3 linked regions of the Homo sapiens genome follow. The protein of the gene in region 1 interacts with the protein of each later gene in a pairwise test. Each region holds a gene or a part of one and is shown on either strand. Other genes may lie near its edges. The genes, in order: CDK5RAP2, ABCA2 and STK36.

Region 1 (8,401 bases):
CTGCCTGAGCCTCCGGAGTAGCTGGGATTACAGGAGTGCACCACCGTGCGTGGCTAATTTTTGTATTTTAGTAGAGACGGGATTTCACCATGTTGGCCAGGATGGTCTCCATCTCCTGATCTCATGATCTGCTCTCCTTGGCCTCCCAAAGTTCTGGGATTACAGGCGTGAGCCACCGCGCCCGGCGTGAGAACTATTTTTTAAATATAAATCTGCTCTTCACAGTCTGCTGCTTTATACTTTTAATGCTGCTTATTGCTGTTATCATAACTTCCATTATTATTCTCTCAGATAGCCATTCTTATTTCAGTGCTTTTTGGCCAGACACTTGGGTTTTGGGGTCCCAGGCCTAGCTGGGTTTTAATCCCAGTTCTGCTACTTAACAACCCCTTGATCTGGGGCAAGTCACTCATCATCTGTGAGCCTCAGTGTTTATCATCTGTAAAAGGGGTTGGTATAAAGCCTAGGGTTGGCATAAGGATTAAAATGAATCTTAAAAAGTTTAGCTCAGTGTCTGACCCAGAGTAACTACTCAACAGATCAGCAAATATTCTCCTTTCCCTCATCTCCCTGCCTTTGCAGGACGTAGATACTGCATACATTCCATCTTAACCATTTTAAAGCATGGTTCAGTTGTATTAAATATATTTGTATTATTGCTCAACGGTCACCACTATCTATCTTCGTAACTCTCCATCTTGCAAAACAGAAACTGTGTCCCTGTTAAAACAGTAACTCCCTATTCCCCCCTTCTCCCAGCCTCTGACAATCACCATTCTACTTTCTGTCTCTATGATTTTTTTTTTTTTTTTTTGAGACAGGGTCTCGCTTTGTTGCCCAGGCTGGAGTGCAGTGGAGTGATCTTGGCTCACTGCAACCTCCGCCTCCAGAGTTCAAGCAATTCTCATGGTTCAGCCACTTAGTGGCCGGGACTACAGGCATGCCCCACTACGCCTGGCTAATTTTTGTATTTTTGGTAGAGACGGGGTTTCACCAGGTTGACCAGGCTGGTCTTGAACTCCTGGCCTCAAGTGTTGTGCCTGCCTCGGCCTCCCAGAGTGCTGGGATTATAGGTATGTGCCATTGCGCCCAGCCTGTCTCTATGATTTTGACTACTCTAAGTGTCGCGTATAAGTAGAATCATACACTATTTGTCCTTCTGTGACTGGTTTATTTAACTTAGCATTATGTCCTCAAGGTTCATGCGTGTTGTAGTATGTGTCAGAATTTCTTTCCTTTTTAAGGCTTTTGTTTTTAATTTTTTTTAGAGACAGTCTTGCTCTGTTACCCATGCTGGTCTTAAATTCCTGGGCTCAAGTGATCCTCCTGCTTCTGCCTTGCTAAGAGCTGGGATTACAGACACAAGCCACTGTGCCTGCCCTTCACTGATATTTTTATTGTCCTTTTGATTATAGCCATCCTTTGGGTGTGACATGGTAGGTATCTCATTGTGGTCTTTTTTTTTTTGTCGTTGAGACAGAGTCTCACTCCCTTGCCCAGGCTGGAGTGCAGTGGCGCAATTTCGGCTCACCGCAACCTCTGCCTCGTGGGTTCAAGCGGTTCTGGTGCCTCAGCCTCCCAAGTAGCTGGGACTACAGGCACGTGCCACCATGCTCGGCTAATTTTTATATTTTTAGTAGAGACGGGGTTTCACCATGTTGGCCAGGCTGGTGTCGAACTCTTGACCTCAGGTGATCTGCCCGCCTTGGCCTCCCAAAGTGCTGGGTTACAGGAGTGAGCCACCCCGCCTGGCCCTCATTGTGGTATTGATTACATGTTAATGGCTACTGATGTGTTGAGCATCTTTCCATGTGCCTTTTAGCCATTTGTTCACTTTCTTTGGAGAAATGTGTATTCAAATCCATCGTCCATTTAAAAAACGTGAATATATTTTGACCCAGCAATTCCACTTCTTGTCATCTATTCTAGAGAAATCCTCATACTTGTGCATATGGGACCTTATAAGGACATTCATATGACATTGCATGTAAAAGAAAAACTTGGAAACAAATTGAATTATCATCAGTAGGGGATTGGGTAAATACACATCCTTTCAAAAGTATCTTTCAGACTGTGGCCCGTTGGTAGCTCATGAAATTCAATTTAGTAGGTTGCAACCAGGATTTAGAAAAATAGAACAGAATAGAAAACATTTCAAGGATGAAGGGTAATAATATTTCTTCTGTGGCTCATGGTCAGTAAGGTTTGAAGAACACTGCTGTAGAAAGCTTTGTAGGAGTTGAAAACTTTGAGGCATATCTATTTGTACTGTCATGAAAACATCATGAGGGCATATTAAGTAGAAGAAGGATGTTGTAGCATGATGTATACTGTTTGATTGCATGTGTTTTTAAGCAGCAAAATTGAAACTATCTATGTAAAAACACATAAAAAGTTCTGGAAGTTATAGGTCTTTTTGAAAACAGTGATTACCTCCTAGGCGGGTTCTAGATGGGAGCGAGGAGGAGCCAAGGAGAACTTTAGGCTTATCTGTATTTTTTTAAATTTATGTATTTTTCTCTAATTAAGAATAAAATAGAATGAAAAAGGGGTTGTTAAAAGACAAAAGTGAGTTTGTTTGTGTAATCGTTGTCAGAATGTGATATCTGGTCTCATCCATGACTCTCATGAAACAATTTGTCAAGGAGACATAAGACCCCTTGGGTCTTATGGTTTGAGTGGACAATTGTTGCTGGCATATGTAGGCATAGAAAGAGGTCAGTCCTTTTCGGTAGCAATAGAGCAAGATAGGAGGATGAGGTGGTGGAGCTCAGGTGAAGGTCCATTCAGTCACTCAAAAATTATCCACAAACAGTTGCTACAGCTGGGCGCGGTGGCTCACGCCTGTAATCCTAGCACTTTGGGAGGCTGAGGCGGTCAGGTCACCTGAGCTCAGGAGTTCAAGACCAGCCTGGCCAACGTGGTGAATCTCCATCTCTACTAAAAGTACAAAAAATTAGCCGGGCGTGGTGGTGCATGCCTGTAATCCTAGCTACTTGGGAGGCTGAGGCACGAGAATCGCTTGAATATGGAAGGTGGAGGTTGCAATGAGCTGAGATCACGCCACTGCACTCCAGCCTGGGCGATAGAGTGAGAGTCTCCAAAAAACCAAAACAAAACAAAACAGTCGTTATGATGGCTGTGCCCTGTGCTGAGTGATGGAAATTTTATGCCTCAGTCCATTCGGCCCTTAACCACCACCACACCCCTGCCACCCCCAACCTCCGGGAAGGCGTCAGGGGTACCAGGGTGGTGTAGGTTCACAGCAGGGGGTTTAAAGTCAGGCTGGCTTGGAGTTTCCAGCCTATTAACTTTTTGGTCTTTGTTTCCTCATTAAAAAAAAAAAAAAAAAAGGCAACATTAAAAAGTACCACCAGCCGCAGAAAGACTATAGTGAGGATTAAACCTGATTTTAGTTTCAAACATTCAGTTTAGAAAATGGACTTTAATCCTGTGGTGAGGATGAAAGGGAAGGCTGCCTGTCCTGTGCTGAGTGTGGTGCTTGTGCAGCATGGGTGCCCCATACAAGGGCAGGTTTCTTAGATTGTGCTTTATTTTGCACGTGAGGAAACTGGTACTCCACCATGTGTCACATTTATATAGGAGCTTTGGGCAGTCCACACACAGGCTAGCAAGTGGAAAAGACACTGGGATCCTGGATTTTGGGCTTGGCTTTGCCACTAACTTTTGTGATTTTGAGTAAATAAGTTCCTAACCCATTTCTGGGTTTCAGTCTTCTCATCTGTGGAATAAGATCATATCTGAGCCCTTTTGTTTTGCTTACATTGTCATTTCTCGTGAGTATCCCTGAGGCCCCAGCCTTAATTATAAGGCTACAAGTGAATGATTAGAATGGAAAGAGGGAGCTGCTTGTGGCTGGAGGTGTAGTTGGAACTGACTGGAGGGTGCAGATGACAGATTCATAGCATTTTAAAAGTGGGTAGGTAAAGCCCGAGTGGAAATTTGGCAGGATCCAAGCAAAAATTTCTGCATTACATAGTGGTTTTGTCTAAGAGTTGGGATGTCAGATGTCATTTTTCAAACTTCAGTGTTTGCCTGTAGGAAGCTTGTCTAAGACCAGAATCTTTGGCTTTGTTTGCTAGGTACTTTTCAGCTGTGATTGATCTTGGCTTGAGTTATTCATGGGCAGTTTTAGCCAGTGGGAGTTAATGTAATGGCTCTGGTACCCGGAGAGAACCCCAGATTGAGAATGCAGGACCAGACCTTAGGCTGAGCTTGGCCAATAACCTGGTGTATGTGACCTTGGGCTTCTGGACCACCATCTGCAAAAGGTGATGGTTGAACTTGATTTTAGTTTTTAAAATTCAGTTTAGAAAATTGACTTTGTCCTTTTAGTGATGTTTATTGGAGGAAATTGAGAATTATATAACATTAAAAAGGAAGAAAACCTCTCATTTCCCTACTAATGATGATTTTTAATATTTCAGTATATTTCCTTTGTCTTGTTATATATCTGTAGCCCACCTATTTCCAAAATGGACTTGAGGTGACTTCAGTATTTATGTACTGTATATATTTGTTTTCATAATTGAGGACATATTCTGTTTACGTTTTTTCATTTACCTTTACAGGGGACACTTTTTTTTTTAAATTTTTTTTTTTTTTGAGATGGAGTCTCACTCTATCACCCAGGCTTGAGTGCAGTGGCATGATCTCAGCTCACTTCAACCTCTGCCTCCTGGGTTCAAGTGATTCTCCTGCCTCAGCCTCTCAAGTAGCTAGGACTACAGGCACCTGCCACAATGCCCGGCTAATTTTTGTATTTTTATTAGAGATGGGGTTTTACCATGTTGGCCAGGCTGGTCTCGAACTCCTGATCTCAAGTGATGCACCAGCCTTGGCCTCCCAAAATACTGGGATTATAGGCATGAGTCACTGCACCCAGCCCGGACACATTTTTTTGTGATCATTTTCTTAATGTTGGAATTTTATGATATTTCCAATTTTTTGCCTGTTTTTGATCTTGAAGGTACATTCCAACTCCAAAGTTTGGTGGTCAGGCAAAATTATCCTAGGAGCACAATGAATTTGGATTTAGAGGCATGGAAAGAGCAAATTGCCAAGAAGTCAAGCTGTTTCCATCAACTCCTACTTTACAGTGTGGGATAGGGAAGTATTCGTGGGAGTTGGACATAAAAGACCTGGCTTCTGGACCTGGCTCTCCACAGAACCGCCATGTGACCCTGGCTAGGACAGTAAAATTGTCTGGGCCTTGGGGCCTTCCTTTGAAAAATGTGTGCACCCTCAGGGAATTAGGCAATTCTAATGATGGTAAATCTTTTATAAATTGTAAAGCACTGTAGGTTTCAAGGCGACATGATATTTTGCTCCCATTTGTGGAGTACCCACAAGGTACCTTGCAATATCTTGTTTAATTGCCAGTTACTCTGTGAGGTAGCTGCTGTACTCATTTTACAGCTAAAGAAAGTGAGGCTCAGAGAGATACATGGCAGAGCTTAGAATAGATCAGGGTAGTGTCTTTTGTGTCACACCACACCTCCTATTATGGGTTAGTTTTCTGTCAGTGTCTCCAGATCCTCACTGAATTTATTTATGTAATTCAACCAAGACAACTTCTTGGATCAGTGAATTTTGCATTGTTTGACATTCTTAAAACATCTAAATTGGTGTCTGATTCCCAGAGGTGGTGATAGGCATATTAGTAGTCATAATGATAATAGTAACAACAACAATAGTTGCCGTTTACTGAATACTTACTATGTGCTTTGTGTTTATATACATGAACGAATTTAATTTTTACAGGGAGGGCATGGTATCCTCATGTACCAGATTAAGAGGGTGAGACTCAGAAACATAAGTATCTTGTACTTGTCACAGTGCCTCTGCCACTAGCACATATTTGGCACACAGAACATTTGATGTATGACTGAATGAATGATGTTACTGAAGGTCACTCAGCTATCAAGTGTTGGAGCTGGAACTCAGCCCCAAAGCCTGAGTTCTTAACCTCTGTGCTTCATGCCACATAGGTAGCCCAGCTGTGTGCATCCCTCCTGGCCATGGGATGATTGTCATGTGCAGTCCAGACCGTCTTAACAGTCTCTGTTGTTCAAACATTAGCTCATCTCTTATCTCATGTGTTCTCTCCTAGTGGCCTTGTTCCCAGTGTACCAGATGACCTGGATGGCATCAACCCCAATGCTGGGTTGGGAAATGGTCGTAAGTACACAAAACCAGGCATTCTCTTGAGTAAAGAACAAGGAAAGTAGACATTGGACTGTGAGCATCTTGAGCTTTCATATCTCTGGGGCCCAGAGGCTTCCCTGAACTGGCACACCGTAGGTGCTCAGTATTTTTTGTATGTATTGATTTGCTTTCCACCTCCTTTCATAAACACTGGACTAGAGGAATTGTTGTCCTTTTGGCCATACTTCATGAGTTTCATTTGTTGCTACTAAAGCTATAGGGATTCAGTGAGCGTTTGCTGAACTGAACAACTGCACGGAGGCTGGACATTGAATTGGCAGCTAGGCCAGTGGCTGGAGGCCCAGGAGAGCTGCCATCTGGACTGTAGCGTGCCAAGGCCTTCCTGGCAGGCTGCTGGATCCTGTTTGCCGGCTGAGGCCCCGCATTCCTACACGGGCCTGCCCTTTGGAGACAAATAGCTGGTTAGACCACAGGAGACGGCTCTGAGTAAATAAGTAGCGTACTGTGTTTAAGCTGGATTATGAGGAGACTTTGCAGTTTGGGTCTAGCTAAGCATTCTTCATAATTTTTATTTCTGAAAAAAGTGAATGCTTAAGCGTCTCTGTGGGTAGTGCTAGTTTTTGCAAAATATCTCTAAGATATTTTGACTTGTTCTTTTTTTTCTCTTCTCCACAGTGCTGAGATATGTGCAAGAGGAGGGAGATTTTGGAGCAGACAGGAAAAGAGTCCCACGGTTTATTTCTGGAAAATCCCTTAACTTACAGGGCACCTTCATGTTTTCCTGAGGAACCTATTAACTTTTACTTTATTTTTACTTTTTATTTTTTTGAGACATGGTCTTGTCCTGTCACCCAGGCTGGGAGTGCAGAGGTGCGATCACGCACACTGCAGCCTTGACCTCTTGGACTCAAGCAATTCTCCATCTCAGTCTCCCTAGTATCTGGGACTACAGGCGTGTGCCACGACACCTGGCTAATTTTTGTATTTTTTGCAGGACGGTTTTGCCATGTTGCCCAGTCTGGTCTCGAATTCCTGGACTCAAGTGATCCACCTGCCTCAGCTTCCCGAAGTGCTGGGATTACAGGCATGAGCCACTGCACTCATTGGCAACTTTTACTTTAAATGCAAAATCCAACAAGTCTGATTTGAGATGGAGTCTCGCTCTGTTGCCCAGGCTGGAGTGCAGTGGTGTGATCTCGGCTCACTGCAACCTCCGCCTCGTGGGTTCAAGCAATTCTTCTGCCTCAGCCTCCCGAGTAGCTGGGATTACAGGCACGTGCCACCACACCCAGCTAATTTTTGTATTTTTAGTAGAGACAGAGTTCACCATGTTGGCCAGGCTGGTCTCGAACTTCTGACCTCAGGTGATCCACCCGCCGCAGCCTCCCAAAGTGCTGGGTTTACAGGCATGAGCCACTGTGCCTGGCCAGCCTATTTCTTAATTTAGCCGATAGTATACATTTGCTTCATGCCAGACTCTGGGCTCAGTGCTAAAATTCAACCTCAAATGTGGTTACTGTTAAGCTGAGAAGACAGACAAACCCTTATGAGAATTTGTATGGTCAGTGTCAGGAGCAAAGATGTATCAAGTGCTGTGAGAGGGGATTAAAGGGAGATTTCCTCTGGTGTGGAGGTGGGTCAGGCTAGAGTTTCCCAAGAAATTGATATTGGAGCGGAGACCTGAATAAGTCAGATGTAGGTAAGGAAAAAGGAGGGGATGAGCATCCCAGACACAGGTGAGGGCATGGCCCGTTTGAGGAACAGGAAAACAAACTAGCGTGCCCTTCACAGTCTGCCCTGCCCACTCCTTAGCCTCTTTTCTGCTAAGTGGTTTCCGAACACCATGCCCACTCCCACCTCTGTGCTTTTGCCTGGGCTGTCTCTCCTTCCTTTTGTTTCTCATCTGCCCGGTGCCTCCTTGCTCCCTCTTTAAGACTCAGCTCAAAGCTCACCACCCTTTTTGGCTCTCCCCAGGCTGACTAAGGTGTACTTTCCTCTCTCAACATTGTGTATTTCACTTCATCTCATCTCATTTCATTTATTCCTGTTGGCTACTTTTAAAGTATCGGAATCAGACTAGTTCTCACCCACCTATACTCCTTCCATCCTACTCCAACCCACCATGATCTGCGGCCTAGATTATCCCAATATTCTCCTAACTGGTTTCCCTGTTTCTCTCCTAAGCCCCTTACAGTCTGTTCTCAGAAAGGCA
Region 2 (5,905 bases), about 16 Mb from region 1:
CAACAGTTACCTGAAAAGCTGCTTCCTCATTTTCCCCAACTACAACCTGGGCCACGGGCTCATGGAGATGGCCTACAACGAGTACATCAACGAGTACTACGCCAAGATTGGTGAGGGGGCCCGTGGGGCGGGGAAGGCGGTGGGGGCCCCGCAAGGCCCAGAGCACAGGCCCTGAGCTGTCTCCCCGCAGGCCAGTTTGACAAGATGAAGTCCCCGTTCGAGTGGGACATTGTCACCCGCGGACTGGTGGCCATGGCGGTTGAGGGCGTCGTGGGCTTCCTCCTGACCATCATGTGCCAGTACAACTTCCTGCGGCGGCCACAGTGAGTGGGGGGCGGGGTGGGGCGGGGGCGGGGCGGGAGCAGGGATGGGTTCGGGGGTGGGGCAGGGTAGGGGCGGGGGTGGGGGCAGGGATGGGGCAGGAGGGGGTGAGGCAGGGGACAGCAGAGGGGCCTGCCCACCCTTCTTACATGCCACAGCCAGAGGATGCGAGGCTGGTGGCAGGGAGGGGCAGTGGGGGTGGCGAGCTGCTGGACACTGTCCACCCTGTCCCCCAAGGCGCATGCCTGTGTCTACCAAGCCTGTGGAGGATGATGTGGACGTGGCCAGTGAGCGGCAGCGAGTGCTCCGGGGAGACGCCGACAATGACATGGTCAAGATTGAGAACCTGACCAAGGTGGGCTCTGGGCATGTAGGGTGGGGCCTGGGTGGGGTAGGCCAGGGCCAGGGGGGTGGGGCCCCAGCAGTGGAGGTGGAGCCTGGGTGGGCAGGGCCCTGAGCTCTGGGGGTGGGGCCTGCATGGGGTGGGGCTGTGGGGCACGTGGCCCCCTGGGCTCTGGAGGTGGGGCAGGGTCTGGGTGGGGTGGGGCCAGAGGGGCAGGGTGGGGGCAGGATGCCCCGCTGAGTGGGCAGGCTCCTGGCCAGGTCTACAAGTCCCGGAAGATTGGCCGTATCCTGGCCGTTGACCGCCTGTGCCTGGGTGTGCGTCCTGGCGAGTGCTTCGGGCTCCTGGGCGTCAACGGTGCGGGCAAGACCAGCACCTTCAAGATGCTGACCGGCGACGAGAGCACGACGGGGGGCGAGGCCTTCGTCAATGGACACAGGTGGGGCGGGAGCCCTGGGTGGGCGGGGCCGCCGCGTCCTCACGCGCTGACAGCTGCCGTGTCCCCAGCGTGCTGAAGGAGCTGCTCCAGGTGCAGCAGAGCCTCGGCTACTGCCCGCAGTGTGACGCGCTGTTCGACGAGCTCACGGCCCGGGAGCACCTGCAGCTGTACACGCGGCTGCGTGGGATCTCCTGGAAGGACGAGGCCCGGGTGAGGATCTGTGGGGCGGGGCAGGGAGTCAGCACGCTGGGTGGCCCTGCCTCCACTGACACCTGCGTTCCCTGGCCAGGTGGTGAAGTGGGCTCTGGAGAAGCTGGAGCTGACCAAGTACGCAGACAAGCCGGCTGGCACCTACAGCGGCGGCAACAAGCGGAAGCTCTCCACGGCCATCGCCCTCATTGGGTACCCAGCCTTCATCTTCCTGGTAAGTCCTGGGTGGGTGGGGGGTGGCTGCCTGGCCTTTGACTTCCTGGTGAGCACGGGCAGGGGCAGCGTTCAGGCTGGGGTGTGTGGGCCTGGCAGCAGCTGAGCCTGCCACCCATCCCCAGGACGAGCCCACCACAGGCATGGACCCCAAGGCCCGGCGCTTCCTCTGGAACCTCATCCTTGACCTCATCAAGACAGGGCGTTCAGTGGTGCTGACATCACACAGGTGAGGGCGCCCCCACCCCCTCTTTGTGCCCCCACCCCACAGCACCCCTTCCGGTGCCAGCCTGTGCATGTCCCACAGCATGGAGGAGTGCGAGGCGCTGTGCACGCGGCTGGCCATCATGGTGAACGGTCGCCTGCGGTGCCTGGGCAGCATCCAGCACCTGAAGAACCGGTGAGCCGGGGCAGGGCCAGGGGTGGGCTGGGGCGGGCCCGGGGGGGGCGGCCAGGCAGCGGGGCCAGGAGTGGGGGTGGCTGCAGGGCTGTGAGGGCTGTGGGGCCAGGGGGGCTGGGGGCACTGGGGCTGGGGGGACTGGGGCAGTGGGGCCAGGGGAGGAGCCTGGAGGGCTGTGGGGGCTGTGGGGTTGGGGGGCTGTGGGAGGCTATGGGGCTTCCTGGGGTGCCTGTGGGGGCTGTAGGGCTGGGAGGCTGGGGGGCTGGGGCTCTGGCTGGGCGGCGCAGGGCTCCGGGCCACCGGCCTGTCCCACCAGGTTTGGAGATGGCTACATGATCACGGTGCGGACCAAGAGCAGCCAGAGTGTGAAGGACGTGGTGCGGTTCTTCAACCGCAACTTCCCGGAAGCCATGCTCAAGGTGCGCCGTCCCGGGCAGGGTTGTGGAGGGGGCGCTACGGGGTGGGGGGGCGCTGCCAGGCCTCTGACCTCCCCCCCTGCAGGAGCGGCACCACACAAAGGTGCAGTACCAGCTCAAGTCGGAGCACATCTCGCTGGCCCAGGTGTTCAGCAAGATGGAGCAGGTGTCTGGCGTGCTGGGCATCGAGGACTACTCGGTCAGCCAGACCACACTGGACAATGTGAGCGCCCCAAGGGCACTGCGCACCACACCTGCCCCTCCCCTCACCCGCCCTGCCCCTCCTCACCCCAGACCAGCCCCCTCCCCACACGCCTGCGCCACCCACCAGGTGTTCGTGAACTTTGCCAAGAAGCAGAGTGACAACCTGGAGCAGCAGGAGACGGAGCCGCCATCCGCACTGCAGTCCCCTCTCGGCTGCTTGCTCAGCCTGCTCCGGCCCCGGTCTGCCCCCACGGAGCTCCGGGCACTTGTGGCAGACGAGCCCGAGGACCTGGACACGGAGGACGAGGGCCTCATCAGCTTCGAGGAGGAGCGGGTGAGCAGGCTGCTCTCATGGCTGTCCAGGGCTCTGCCCACTGGACCCAGGCTGCCTGGTGGCTCCAGCCGCGGGTGGGGTCGGGGGAGAACTGGCCCCAGGATGCTTGCTGTCCAGAGGTCAAGGGGGCAGAGTGGGCGAGGGACACTTGCAGATAGGCCTGGAGAGACGTAACTGCATGGTCCAGACTTGCTAGAGTCTTTGAGGGGCACAGAGCAAGGGTGGGGCAGAGGGGACCAGAGCCGGGGAACAGGGGACCGATGTAGACTCAGTGGCCCCCAGACTCGGCAGACGGAGGCCCGGGAGAGCCCAGACACAGAGGGAGCTCGTGGGGAGACCCTGCGTCCAGGCCCAGCCTGCAGGAGGGCCGGGGCGGGCCAGCACAAGTGTCCTCAGCCCCAGCAGGGGGTGGCACAGGATGCCCCATAAGCCTGACCTCCCCTGTGCACAGGCCCAGCTGTCCTTCAACACGGACACGCTCTGCTGACCACCCAGAGCTGGGCCAGGGAGGACACGCTCCACTGACCACCCAGAGCTGGGCCAGGGACTCAACAATGGGGACAGAAGTCCCCCAGTGCCTGCCAGGGCCTGGAGTGGAGGTTCAGGACCAAGGGGCTTCTGGTCCTCCAGCCCCTGTACTCGGCCATGCCCTGTGGTCACTGCGGTTGCCGCCCCTAATTGTGCCAAAGGCTGACCCGGCCCGGGCTGCGTACACCCTTGCCCTGCTTTGCCTTAAAGCCTCGGGGTCTGCCCGGCCCCTCGCCCCTGCCTGGCACTGCTCACCGCCCAAGGCGACGCCGGCTGGACCAGGCACTGCTGGCCTTTCTCCTGCCCGGCCTCGGAACCAGCTTTTCTCTCTTACGATGAAGGCTGATGCCGAGAGCGGGCTGTGGGCGGAGCTGGGTCAGTCCCGTATTTATTTTGCTTTGAGAAGAGGCTCCTCTGGCCCTGCTCTCCTGCAGGGAGGTGGCTGTCCTGCGGGAAGCCATCAGCTTGGGCCAGCTGGCAGGTGGCAGGAATGGAGAAGCTGACCCTGCTGGCCAGGCAAGGGGCCAGACCCCCCCCAACCCCCAGCTGCCATCGCTCTCCCACCCAGCTTGGCCCCCTGCCCGCCCACCTCCCTGGGAGCCGGGCCTGTACATAGCGCACAGATGTTTGTTTTAAATAAATAAACAAAATGTCTGCGGGTCTGCGTGTGTGGGTTGGGAAGGGTGGGGAGGATGGGCGCATCAGGTGGGTTAGCGCTCCAGAAGGCCCTGCCCCTCAGGCACAGGTGCTGGCAGGGGGTGGCTGGGTCGGTCTGGAGGAGGGAAACTGAGGCAGGGTGGTTCACCATGGTTCACTGTCCCCCTCATCCCACCCTCAGGGGTTGCTCCCGGCCCCCTTCCCCTTAGCCTTCATCTTCCCGTCCACCTGCCCTCTCTAAGCCTCCTTCACCCCTTGCTGCCCACGTGGGGCCTGCAGCAGCCTGGGCTAGGCTGTCTCCGTGTCATGGAAGGGACAGCGAGGGCTTCCAGGAAGAGGCGACCTCCAGGAGGAGACCGAAGTCTGTGAAGATTCCTTAAGGGAAGGGCATCCCAGCCAGAGGGCAGGGCACAGGCCAAGGCCCCAGGGAGGCAGGACCTGGAAGCTTTGAGGCTCATCAGCGGTGGAGCCTGGCACACTGTGGGCAGGAGATGGGGGAGGGGCATGAATGGCCCCCAGAGCTCACGCCCCGTGATCTGGGCCAAGTTCAGACTCTTGCCTTAGGCCGTTTCAAGGCTCCTCAGGAGGGTAGAGGGTGGACTCACTGAGGGCTGGTGCCACATGGGGGACAACAGGGGAGGGGCCCATGGGCTTGAGGGCACTGGGTGGGCTGGGCCAACACATCCACTTGGGTTCCTATGAGGCACTCACTGTGACCACCTGAGAGGCAGTGGGATGACCATGCTGGAGTCCCTGAGAGGCTGGGTCACTGGGGTGAAGCTGTCCTGGGCCCTGGGGGCGGTTCACTCTGGAAGAACCGAGAGGAACAGTGGCTCACTGGAGGGGCTGGTGTGGGTTTGGTGGTCGGCCAAGGGAAATGCGTGGGGGAGCCGCCAGAAGGCAGGAGGCCGCAGCAGCCTCCGTCCTGCAACTGTAGGGGCTGAATCATGGCAGAAAGAGGTCGAGAAAGGAACACGGCCCAGCCGAGGCCCAGGGAGACCCTGCGCGCAGGACCAGGCCAGGCTGGACCTGGACAGCCGCCCACAGACTGACACAGTTCACGGGGGCATCGTCCCTAGAGGTTTCATTTTCATGATGTGTAATGCAGCATTGAAAGCAAACACACCCCCCAGCATCTTCCTCAGAACATTTTCCGCCGAGCACGGTGGCTCACGCCTGTAATCCCAGCACTTCGGGAGGCCGAGGCAGGTGGATCATCTGAGGTCAGGAGTTCGAGACCAGCCTGGCCAACATGGTGAAACCCCATCTCTACTAAAACTACAAAAATTAGCTGGGTGTGGTGGTGGGCGCCTGTATTCCCAGCTGCTCGGGAGGCTGAGGCAGAAGAATCACTTGAACCTGGCAGGTAGAGGCTGCAGTGAGCCAAGATCGTGCCATTGCACTCCAGCCTGGATGACAGAGTGAGACTCTGTCTCAAAACAACAGCAAAAAGAACATTTTAAACTTTCAGGAAAGTTGCGAGAATAGCAGAGCGCACGCCGCATCTTCAGCCGATGCGCCTGTGAAATCTTGCCACACGCACCGTCGCTCTACCCACTTTTGTGCTGCCCCATGTGAAAGCAAGCAGCTGTGACCTGCCAGCCCCGGCCCTGCAGCCTCCTTCCCCCAAGAGCCGCCAGGGTAGCCCAGAGTTAACAAAGGGTACAGCAAGGCTTTTCAGGGCCCCGGTGGCCCAGGCATGCCCTTTTTTATTTTTTATTATTATTTGTTTGAGGAGACGGAGTCTCACTCTCTTGCCCAGGCTGGAGTGGGGCACAATCTCGGCTCACTGCAAGCTCCGCCTCCCGGGTTCACACCATTCTCCTGCCTCAGCCTCCTG
Region 3 (8,401 bases), on another chromosome or scaffold:
GACGCAGCGAATGGTTTCCTTCAAAGGGTCAGTACTGAGGGCAGGCGGGGAAGTTCCAAGGCTATCACAGGCACAGTAGCTTGAGAGGGAAGGCTGTGGGTTGCTTCTTCATTCCTCTGGTCCAGAGGCTCCCCAAAATGCCCAGTTCCTCTCTCTTTACTTCCCATCCATCCCAAGATCCATCTGTACCTCAGTGAGGAGCTGCAACAGAAGGATAAGGAGGCCATCATAGAATCCACAACTACCTGGTGGAGTCAACCGAACCTGTCAGAGAGAAACATGAAGAATGCAGGTGCCTAAGAGGAATGGGGTGTCCGTTAAACCAAGGCAGGTCAGTGATGGTGCCATGGAGGGAACAGATTTGAGAGTCAACCGGAAGGTAGAATATATGGGGCCTGGGGGAACCATTTCGGTGGGGGAATAATGGGGAAGAGAGAACAGTCACTGATGACTCCCAAAGTTCTGACTTAGACTTCTGGATGAGTGTTAGTGCTATCACTAGTGATACAACCTCTCTGAAGGCTAACTTAGTCTAGAAAAAGCAGATGAGTATTATTACATTGGTGTGTCTATATTTCAAGTGTGTTGTGGGATAACATGTGAAAATGTTTTATAAATTATAAAGAATTCAGCCACTGAGGTAGCTCACGCCTGTAATCCCAGCACTTTGGGAGGCTGAGGCGGGGGGATCAGGAAGTCAGGAGTTCCAGACCAGCCTGGCCAACATTGTGAAACCCCGTCTCTACTAAAAATACAAAAATTAGCTGGGCATGGAGGTGTGCACCTGTTGTCCCAGCTACTCAGGAGGATAAGGCAGGAGAATCGCTTGAACCCAGGAGGTGGAGGTTGCAGTGAGCCGAGATCACGCCACTGCACTCCAGCCTGGTGACAGAGTGAGACTGCATCTCAAAAAAAAAAAAAAAAAAAAGAATTCTACATATATAAAGATGGCAGGCTGGGCACAGTGGCTCATTCCTGTAATCCCAGCACTTTAGGAGGCTGAGGCGGATGGATCACTTGAGGTCAGGAGTTCGAGACCAGCCTGGCCAACATGGTGAAACCCCATCTCTACTAAAAACACACAAAAAAATTAGCCAGGCATGGTGGTGTATACCTGTAATCCCAACTACTTGGGAGGCTGAGGCAGGAGAATCACTTGAACCTGGGAGGCGGAGGTTGTAGTGAGCCAAGATCGTGCCACTACACTCCAGCCTGGGCGACAGAATAAGACTCCGTCTCAAAAAAAAAAAAAAAAAAAAAAAAGACTGGACATGGTGGCTCACACCTATAATCCCAGCACTTTGAGAGGCCGAGGTGGGCGGATCACATGTGAGGTCAGGAGTTCGAGACCAGCCTGACCAACATGGAGAAACCCTGTCTCTACTAAAAATACAAAAATTAGCTGGGCATGGTGGTGCATGCCTGTAATCCCAGCTACTCGGGAGGCTGAGGCAGGAGAATCGCTTGAACCCAGGAGGCAGAGGTTGCGGTGAGCCGAGATCGCGCCATGGCACTCCAGCCTGGACAAGAGTGAAACTCCATCTCAAAAAAAAAAAAAAAAAAAAAAAGGGATGACAATAATTTGATTATAAAGTCTATCCTTCTTTTTACAAAATGAAGGAAAGATGAGTTCCAAAGGGTCTAAAAATGAAAGGAAGAAAAGTCCTGGGAAAGGAGAAAGCAGAAAGAAGGCTACATAATGGACTGAGTTCCTGAAGAATTCACAGGATGTCAGCCACCTTTTCCATCTGTTAAGAAGAACAAGTGGGGAAAGCAGAGTGGAAGCTGCAGTCAGAGGTGAAATTATGCATTAGGAAGGACTCTGCCAAGAGCATGAGCTTCTGGAGGAGGAGAACGAAGCAGGCAGGGTTCTCACACTACTCAGAAAACTCAGGTTAGTCACCCTTCCTCTTCCCTTCCCTCCCTCACTCTCTAGAAGCTCTGCATATTAAAAAGAAATCTAAAGTCCAGATCAATCTGGGCTCAGAGGGGCCTATCATCCGGCGACAAATCTAGAAAAGGAAGGGCTCCTTGATTCCTTTTCCATTCCTCAGTTTACTCCAGGCTTGCTGGCATTTCAGTCTTTTCCCCTTGAATGCAGTCCTAGTGTCTGACTCAGAGAAAACATGTCTGTGCCCTCCCTGGGGGGCCTCACCTCTGCAGGGGCAGACAAGGCATGTGTGGCTGCAGCCATCCATTCCATGGGCTGGAGGTCAAAGGTCACCCCTTGCTGACCAAGCTGTCCCAATAGACAGGCTGCTGCACTCTGTGGGAGAGGTAAAAGAGGAGAAAGAATGTCCAAATCTAAATGGCATTCAGGACAGGCAGAGAGGATTTATGTCTCTGTCCTGGTCCAAAAGAATGCCTCCAGAAACAGATGCAAATTGGATAGTGACTCCCCCACTTCCACAAGGGGTAGATGCTAGGGTGAAAAGGGGAGGAGGGTGAAGGTTAAAAACTTACCACAAGAGAGACGACATGCGAATGGGTAAAGAGAGTAGCAACGTCACTGCCTAGCTTCTCCATTCTGGAATAAAGAGATACATCAAGGGATGCAGCAGTATTAAAGGAGGTTGGTAAGCGGCCTCCCCTCTCCCTTGCATGGTGTTCTTCACCTAGGCTGCATGTCTACCTCCAAGGCACAAAGTTGATGGGAGTCTAGGTCTGTTCTTTGTAGAGAAAGCTTCACGCTCTCTATCCCAATTCCTCCTAAGGATATGCTGTAGGGTACCATTCCCCATACTCTTTGTGAGGGTTAGCTATGTGGCTAGAAGACTTCTGTGGAGACACCCTACTTTATGACTTACCCACAAGGCAGGTTTTGGAGCCGAAAGACAAGAAGGGAGAGGAAGTAGAGTGTCACTTCAGTAGACTCTTCCCAATCTACTACTTTTACCTACAAAGGAAACCTAAGATATCAGAACAACCTCTGGCTGAGACAGTGGGGCTGCCAGGGGAAGCTGGCTTACCTTGCCCTGAATCAACATAAACAGGGATTCCAAGGCCAGGGGCTCCTGCCCCAGAAGACGGCACAGGCCCTCACTGACAAGGCAGCAGGAGTATAGAACCTGAGGGAGAAGGAAGGAGTCTGGCAGTGAGGCAGGGCAGGCCCCGGGCTCCAAGATTGAAGGCTCAGCGGAAACACCGGCCAGCCCCTCAAAAGATCTGGTACCCACACTTGGGAGTGTGAGAGAACCCCCTTCTGCCTCTTGCTATGAGATAGTGAGACAGGGACCCTTCTCGGTTCCGCTGAGGACTGGCTAACAGTGGGGTCCTCTCAGTTGAACAGATTTAAAAGCAGAAAGGAGTCTTCCAAGGGGGTGTCTCAAATGGTCTCTCTCAGTCTCTCTCTCTTTTAGTCCTCCTCTCTTGGTCTGTTTCTCTGCTTCTCTGTCTGCACTGGGAGTTAAAAATAAAGCTGTGATGCCAGGAGTTAAGAGGATTACCTTGAGAAGGTGCAGGCACAGGATGGGATGCTGCAGGCCAGAGATGAGGGATGGCCTGAGCTGGCTGCTGTCTTCAGTTAGCTGATTTGCCAAATGCCAACAGACCTATAGAGACATACCTGAAGGCTCAATCCTATCCACATGATTACAACCCTATTCCTCACATATGTCCAAAATGATCAGGACTCTCAGTCTCTTCCTAGTCACTCTTCCCACATTCACCAGAAACCTCAGACCCCATTCTATTCCCAGTCTTCATCACCAATAGAGAACCAAAAGTCATGGCCTAGTTTGGCCCCAGTGTAGCCAGGTACAGAGGAAAGGATTACCGACCAACAGGGATCAGGAAAGCTGAATTCTCAGCCCTTGAGGAAGCATCACTGGAGGCTTCAGATCAGCTGCCCCACCATCTGGGCAGTTTATCACTGTGCTCTCTCCCTCACCAACTGGCCATGGGCTCTGGGATTCTGGCTATATCATGTTCTACAAATGGCCCAGGGTGGGAGCATCTGTTTCTGGAAGTACTAAAGGAGGGGCTTAAAAGCTTGTTTTTCTGCCTTTCTGAAAAACTGGGGCTAGCCTCCTCAATTCCTCTGGCAGTAGGATGAGAGGAACAACCAATTGTAGCTCGGACCTGCTCCTTGGCATCCCAGCAGTCGGGCAGTCCCACAGGAGCAGTGCATATGGCTGCCAGGGCAGAGGAAATGGCTCCAGGTATATCCTCACTCTGCTCTCGCAGTGGCTGGCTCACTTGCGGGGCTCCTGTGGAGAAAAGCAAAGAGTAACTCCAAAGGCCTGAGGCTCTTGCCCTAGACAATAGCACCAGTACTCACCGACATGGCAGCAGGAGTAGGGAACCTAAGGGAGTGGGAAGAATGCAGGATGAGGTCTGTTTGTTTCCCTCAGATCCCCATTCATTCTCTCAGTTCACAGTTATTTATTGAGCACCTACTAAATGCCAGGTGCGATCTAGGTGATGGCAATAGAAAGAGCGGAGCCTGACCTATGCAACAAGTAAGTCAAGAGAACCTCCCTTCTCCACTCTGGTTACCTTGGGGAGTGTGGACAGGGAGCTGTGGAACTGTCAAGCCATGAAGGAGCCCATCCAAGACAACCTGCTGTGTCGTCAGCAAGCTGGAGTAAAAGGCTTTGGAGATGGCCCGGCTGTTCCCATCCATGGCTTCGCACAGGACAGTAAAGCACTAAAGGAGAGAAGTGCAGAGGTAGCATCAGGGCATCAGAAGACTGGGCTTAGTGTAAAAAACAAGAAAACCCTGAGGATCTGAGGAAAGAGGACAAAAACCAAAGCAAACACATGTCTAATTTTAAGCATTCTTCACACCAAAAATGCATTAGAACTGCTTTCATTCATGCTTCAAGGACAATAATTTTAGGTGTCAATCCTTCTATTCTCTGATCAGATGCTCCCTAGATGATGTTTCTCAAAGTATTTTTTATAGACTGTGAGTATAAGAATTCCTAGGGGTCAGGTGCAATGGCTCATGCCTGTAATCCCAACAGGGGATTGGGAGGCCGAGGCAGGTGGATCACTTGAGCTCAGAAGTTTGAGACCAACCTGGGCAACATGGCAAAACCCTGTCTCTACTAAAAATCCAAAAAAAATAGCCAGGTCTGGTGGTGTGCACCCATAGTCTCAGCTACTCAAGAGGCCGAGATGGGAGGATTGCTTGAGCCCGGAGGGTGGAGGTTGCAGTGAGTCAAGATCATGCCACTGCACTCTAGCCTGGGTGACAGAGAGACCCTGTCTCCAAAAAAAAAAGGAAAGAAAAGAAGAAATCCTAGGGATTCCTGGGTCCCTCCCAACTCAGTCCTACTGATTCAGAATTTCAGGAGGTAATTATTCCAAACTCCCCATTCTATTCATAGCATATGACATGAGAAGTGCTGGCCAATAGCATGAGTCACTGCTGGCCAAAATTTAGGTTAGACAGTAAAAGCTTTCTGACTTGAAAGGGTGAGGGATATTAAAACAGGATCTCAGACCAGGAAAGTCTGAGTGAATGCTAGCTAAAGGCAAGTAGTAGTCCAGATCTATGTTCCCAATTACCAGTTTTAACAATGACCAGGCAATTATTTACTTCCTTACAAATATATGTTCCTCTCTATCTCCTCTGAGGTTAGTCAGAACACAGCTATTTTCTCATTCAATCCTCCATTCTCCTGTCCCTTACCTCCAGGATCTAGGGAAAAGAACTGCATAGTCTACTAATCCTCAGGACAAACGAGGTTAGACAATACTAGATGATCTGCAAGTCTTTTCAAGAAGAAGTCGTTCTATTTGTGGTCCCCTGAAATATGCCAAACTGCTTAAAGCCTCTGGGCCTTTATATATGTTACTCTTTCTGTATAGAATTTCTACTTTGTGCCTCATTTACGTGGCAAACTGCGATGTATTCTTCAAATGCTAGCAGAGATGATTTCCTTCTTCGAGATTTCTTCTATGATACTCCAAATAGTGTTAAGTGCATCTTCTGCAGTGGTTAACTGCATCTTCTTCATAAAATACAGCAGTGCTCTTGTATTATATGCAAAGTTCTAATGTACTTTTCACTGTTGTCCTTAATCCCTTTACCTCTCCCCTATTAAATTATCCCTAGTCCCTTGAAGGCAGGCACTTTTTCTTACTCACATGGCATATGGCATGGTGGGAATTTAACAAATGTTTGTCATATTAACTTGATCTGACCCTACATAGTCATAAGAAAGGGGATGGGAGAAACACGGAGAATGATAGGAGACACAGAAATCTGGAAGTGGGAGCAGATTACCATAAGGCTGTCCCTCCGCAAAGTCTGCTCAGAGTCATCTGGTTGGGCCAGCAGTTTCCCCAACAGGTCCAGAAAAAGGTTGGCAGCCTCCTGAAACACCTGCAGGCTGGGGGTGGAAAATGAGCCCATGATTTCTTATCTCTCTACTAAAAGCCTGGATGTGGTGAATGGGTCAGTCCTGGGCAGGTAGGAGAATCTCTGCAAAGGGACACATCAGAATGTTCCTCCCTTCTCCCTTGCCACACACACACATACACCCTCCAAGCCCCTTCTTTGCCATTTTCTCTAGGTTATTCGCATATTTTTTTTCTTTCTTTCTTTCTTTAATCCAATTGGCTTCCTGGAATAGGTTATTCACATCTTGACCCTTCCATTTTAGGACCATGGTGACTGCTGACTCTTAGAAACTGTAAGTCTTGAGGCCAAGTTGGAGCTGTCTTAGGGTCCTTAAAAGGACTATGAGTGGCCACTCAGCTGATTCCTAAACCTGTAACAAATCACAGCTTCTTCATACTTGGCCTGTTCCTAAATGGGAAGGGCACTTGGGGTAGAAACAGAAGCCAAACTTGCCAACAATGCAAAAGCACTTCTTATCCTACCTGTCACTTGTCTGGCTCCTCTCCAGATTGAAGGTACAGGCAAAGTAGGCCTGAATCACAGCCATCAGGTCCTGTAAGAAGGTCCCATACCAAGATTGCTGCCCAGGAAAAGGAGAAGAGAGTAAGGGCAATGTGAAGGATGGAAACAAAGAATAGAAAAAACAGTAGAAAGGGTGTATAGAGACCCAGTCAAGTTGATCAAACAGAAAGGGACAGAAGAGAAGTATAGGCAGAGAGAGAGTTCTAGGGGTAACAGAGAATCTGCCAATGGGCTGTGAACAGCCTGGATTAAATGTGTCTTGTTTGGCCTGAATAGCATTTTGGAGTATAGGAGGTTCTATTTTTCAAAAATCTTTTTCTCTAAATTCCTTAAAATCACCCAAGATTAATACTCATCAACAAAGTGCAGCTTTCCAGCTGCCTCATCCTAGGCCCTATTAGGCATTTACACTGACTCTGAAACATTCCCCATCCTCTCAGTCCAGCTACCGTAGGACACAGCAGGGGGAAGTAGAGGTTTGGCCCCAAACACATTGAGTCTCTATCCCAGCTCTTCCACTTGTTATCTCTGTGACCATTTACAAATTAGTGACTGTGTATGAGTTACCTCTGAATTTTAGTACTCTGCTCTGTAAGATCAGGTCAATGAAGCCTAGGATCTAACATTTCAAAGCACAGCGCTCTAAATATTTAAAAATTACACATAAAAATTTGGGTTTCTACCTTTTCTTAGAAAACTAGAAGATCTGGCTAGTTTTCTCAGGCCCATATTTCCCTGTGGCAACAATGGGCTGGAGGCTGAGGAAAGGATGCCTCTACTCTATTTAGAGGAGGCATGTGAACTCTAGTTCATCATATTCCCCACAACTCATATAGTCACATGCATAGCCTACTTCATGGCAGACCTTATCTGCCTGGCCCCAGAAGGCATTAGAGTTTGCAATTAATAGTCTACTAACTAGAAAGAGGAGGAAAGAAAATAAAAGGCAGTCAGACCAAAGAGAGATGGCAATCTGAATGAGATAAATCCAAGAAAAAGAACCTCTGTAAGTCTTCAGAGGCTTCTGGCCTGGTGCTTACCTGCTGGAGGCTGTTGCTCTCCTGACTGTGCCTGAGTAGACTCAGCAGCAGCCCAGGAAGCCCTGCCTCCCGGCAGAAGGAATACAAGGCAACAGAATCACTGCAGCTGGAGAGAAGACTGCTCAGGACCCGGAATGCAGGCAGGATGTGGGAAGCACCCTCCAAGATGCCTTTCAGGATCTGGGTGACATGAGGGAAAGAGGCAACGATTGATATTTTCAGAGGTAAAAGAAGGAGAACTACACATACCAAGCATCCCCAAGGAGCTGGGAAAGCAGACCACATGCTTGCATTCCTTTCTTTGCAAGTCTAAAACACAGAGAAGGAAAGCAGGGAAATAGGGGAACTGTACCAGGGAAGAAGACAATAGATGGTCAGGTTACCTAACACAGAACACCAGTGACCAACGGATAGGGGCCTCTCCTCAGGATCTCTGTCAGACTAAGTGCCATTCCCATCTGCTCCCTCCCTTCTCCAGCCCTTCACC

Evidence for each region.
Region 2: the proteins of CDK5RAP2 (region 1) and ABCA2 interact in a two-hybrid assay, tested with the Homo sapiens proteins (one study listed by BioGRID and IntAct).
Region 3: the proteins of CDK5RAP2 (region 1) and STK36 interact in a two-hybrid assay, tested with the Homo sapiens proteins (one study listed by BioGRID and IntAct).

Annotation. Positions count from the first base shown.
Region 1 is NC_000009.12:120,569,774-120,578,174, reverse strand, and holds part of CDK5RAP2 (CDK5 regulatory subunit-associated protein 2), read left to right. Parts: intron 1-6,133; coding exon 6,134-6,201; intron 6,202-8,401. UniProt on the Homo sapiens protein: Potential regulator of CDK5 activity via its interaction with CDK5R1. Negative regulator of centriole disengagement (licensing) which maintains centriole engagement and cohesion. Involved in regulation of mitotic spindle orientation.
Region 2 is NC_000009.12:137,005,391-137,011,295, reverse strand, and holds the end of ABCA2 (ATP-binding cassette sub-family A member 2), read left to right. Parts: coding exon 1-110; intron 111-190; coding exon 191-323; intron 324-558; coding exon 559-676; intron 677-924; coding exon 925-1,103; intron 1,104-1,171; coding exon 1,172-1,313; intron 1,314-1,392; coding exon 1,393-1,527; intron 1,528-1,651; coding exon 1,652-1,755; intron 1,756-1,833; coding exon 1,834-1,926; intron 1,927-2,242; coding exon 2,243-2,345; intron 2,346-2,427; coding exon 2,428-2,565; intron 2,566-2,673; coding exon 2,674-2,880; intron 2,881-3,331; coding exon 3,332-3,367; 3' UTR 3,368-4,062; downstream 4,063-5,905. UniProt on the Homo sapiens protein: Probable lipid transporter that modulates cholesterol sequestration in the late endosome/lysosome by regulating the intracellular sphingolipid metabolism, in turn participates in cholesterol homeostasis.
Region 3 is NC_000002.12:218,688,390-218,696,790, reverse strand, and holds part of STK36 (serine/threonine-protein kinase 36), read right to left. Parts: intron 8,095-8,401; coding exon 7,915-8,094; intron 6,933-7,914; coding exon 6,835-6,932; intron 6,342-6,834; coding exon 6,236-6,341; intron 4,649-6,235; coding exon 4,498-4,648; intron 4,209-4,497; coding exon 4,081-4,208; intron 3,552-4,080; coding exon 3,447-3,551; intron 3,069-3,446; coding exon 2,970-3,068; intron 2,897-2,969; coding exon 2,808-2,896; intron 2,528-2,807; coding exon 2,464-2,527; intron 2,267-2,463; coding exon 2,156-2,266; intron 265-2,155; coding exon 190-264; coding exon of another isoform or gene 157-189; exon of another isoform or gene 1-156.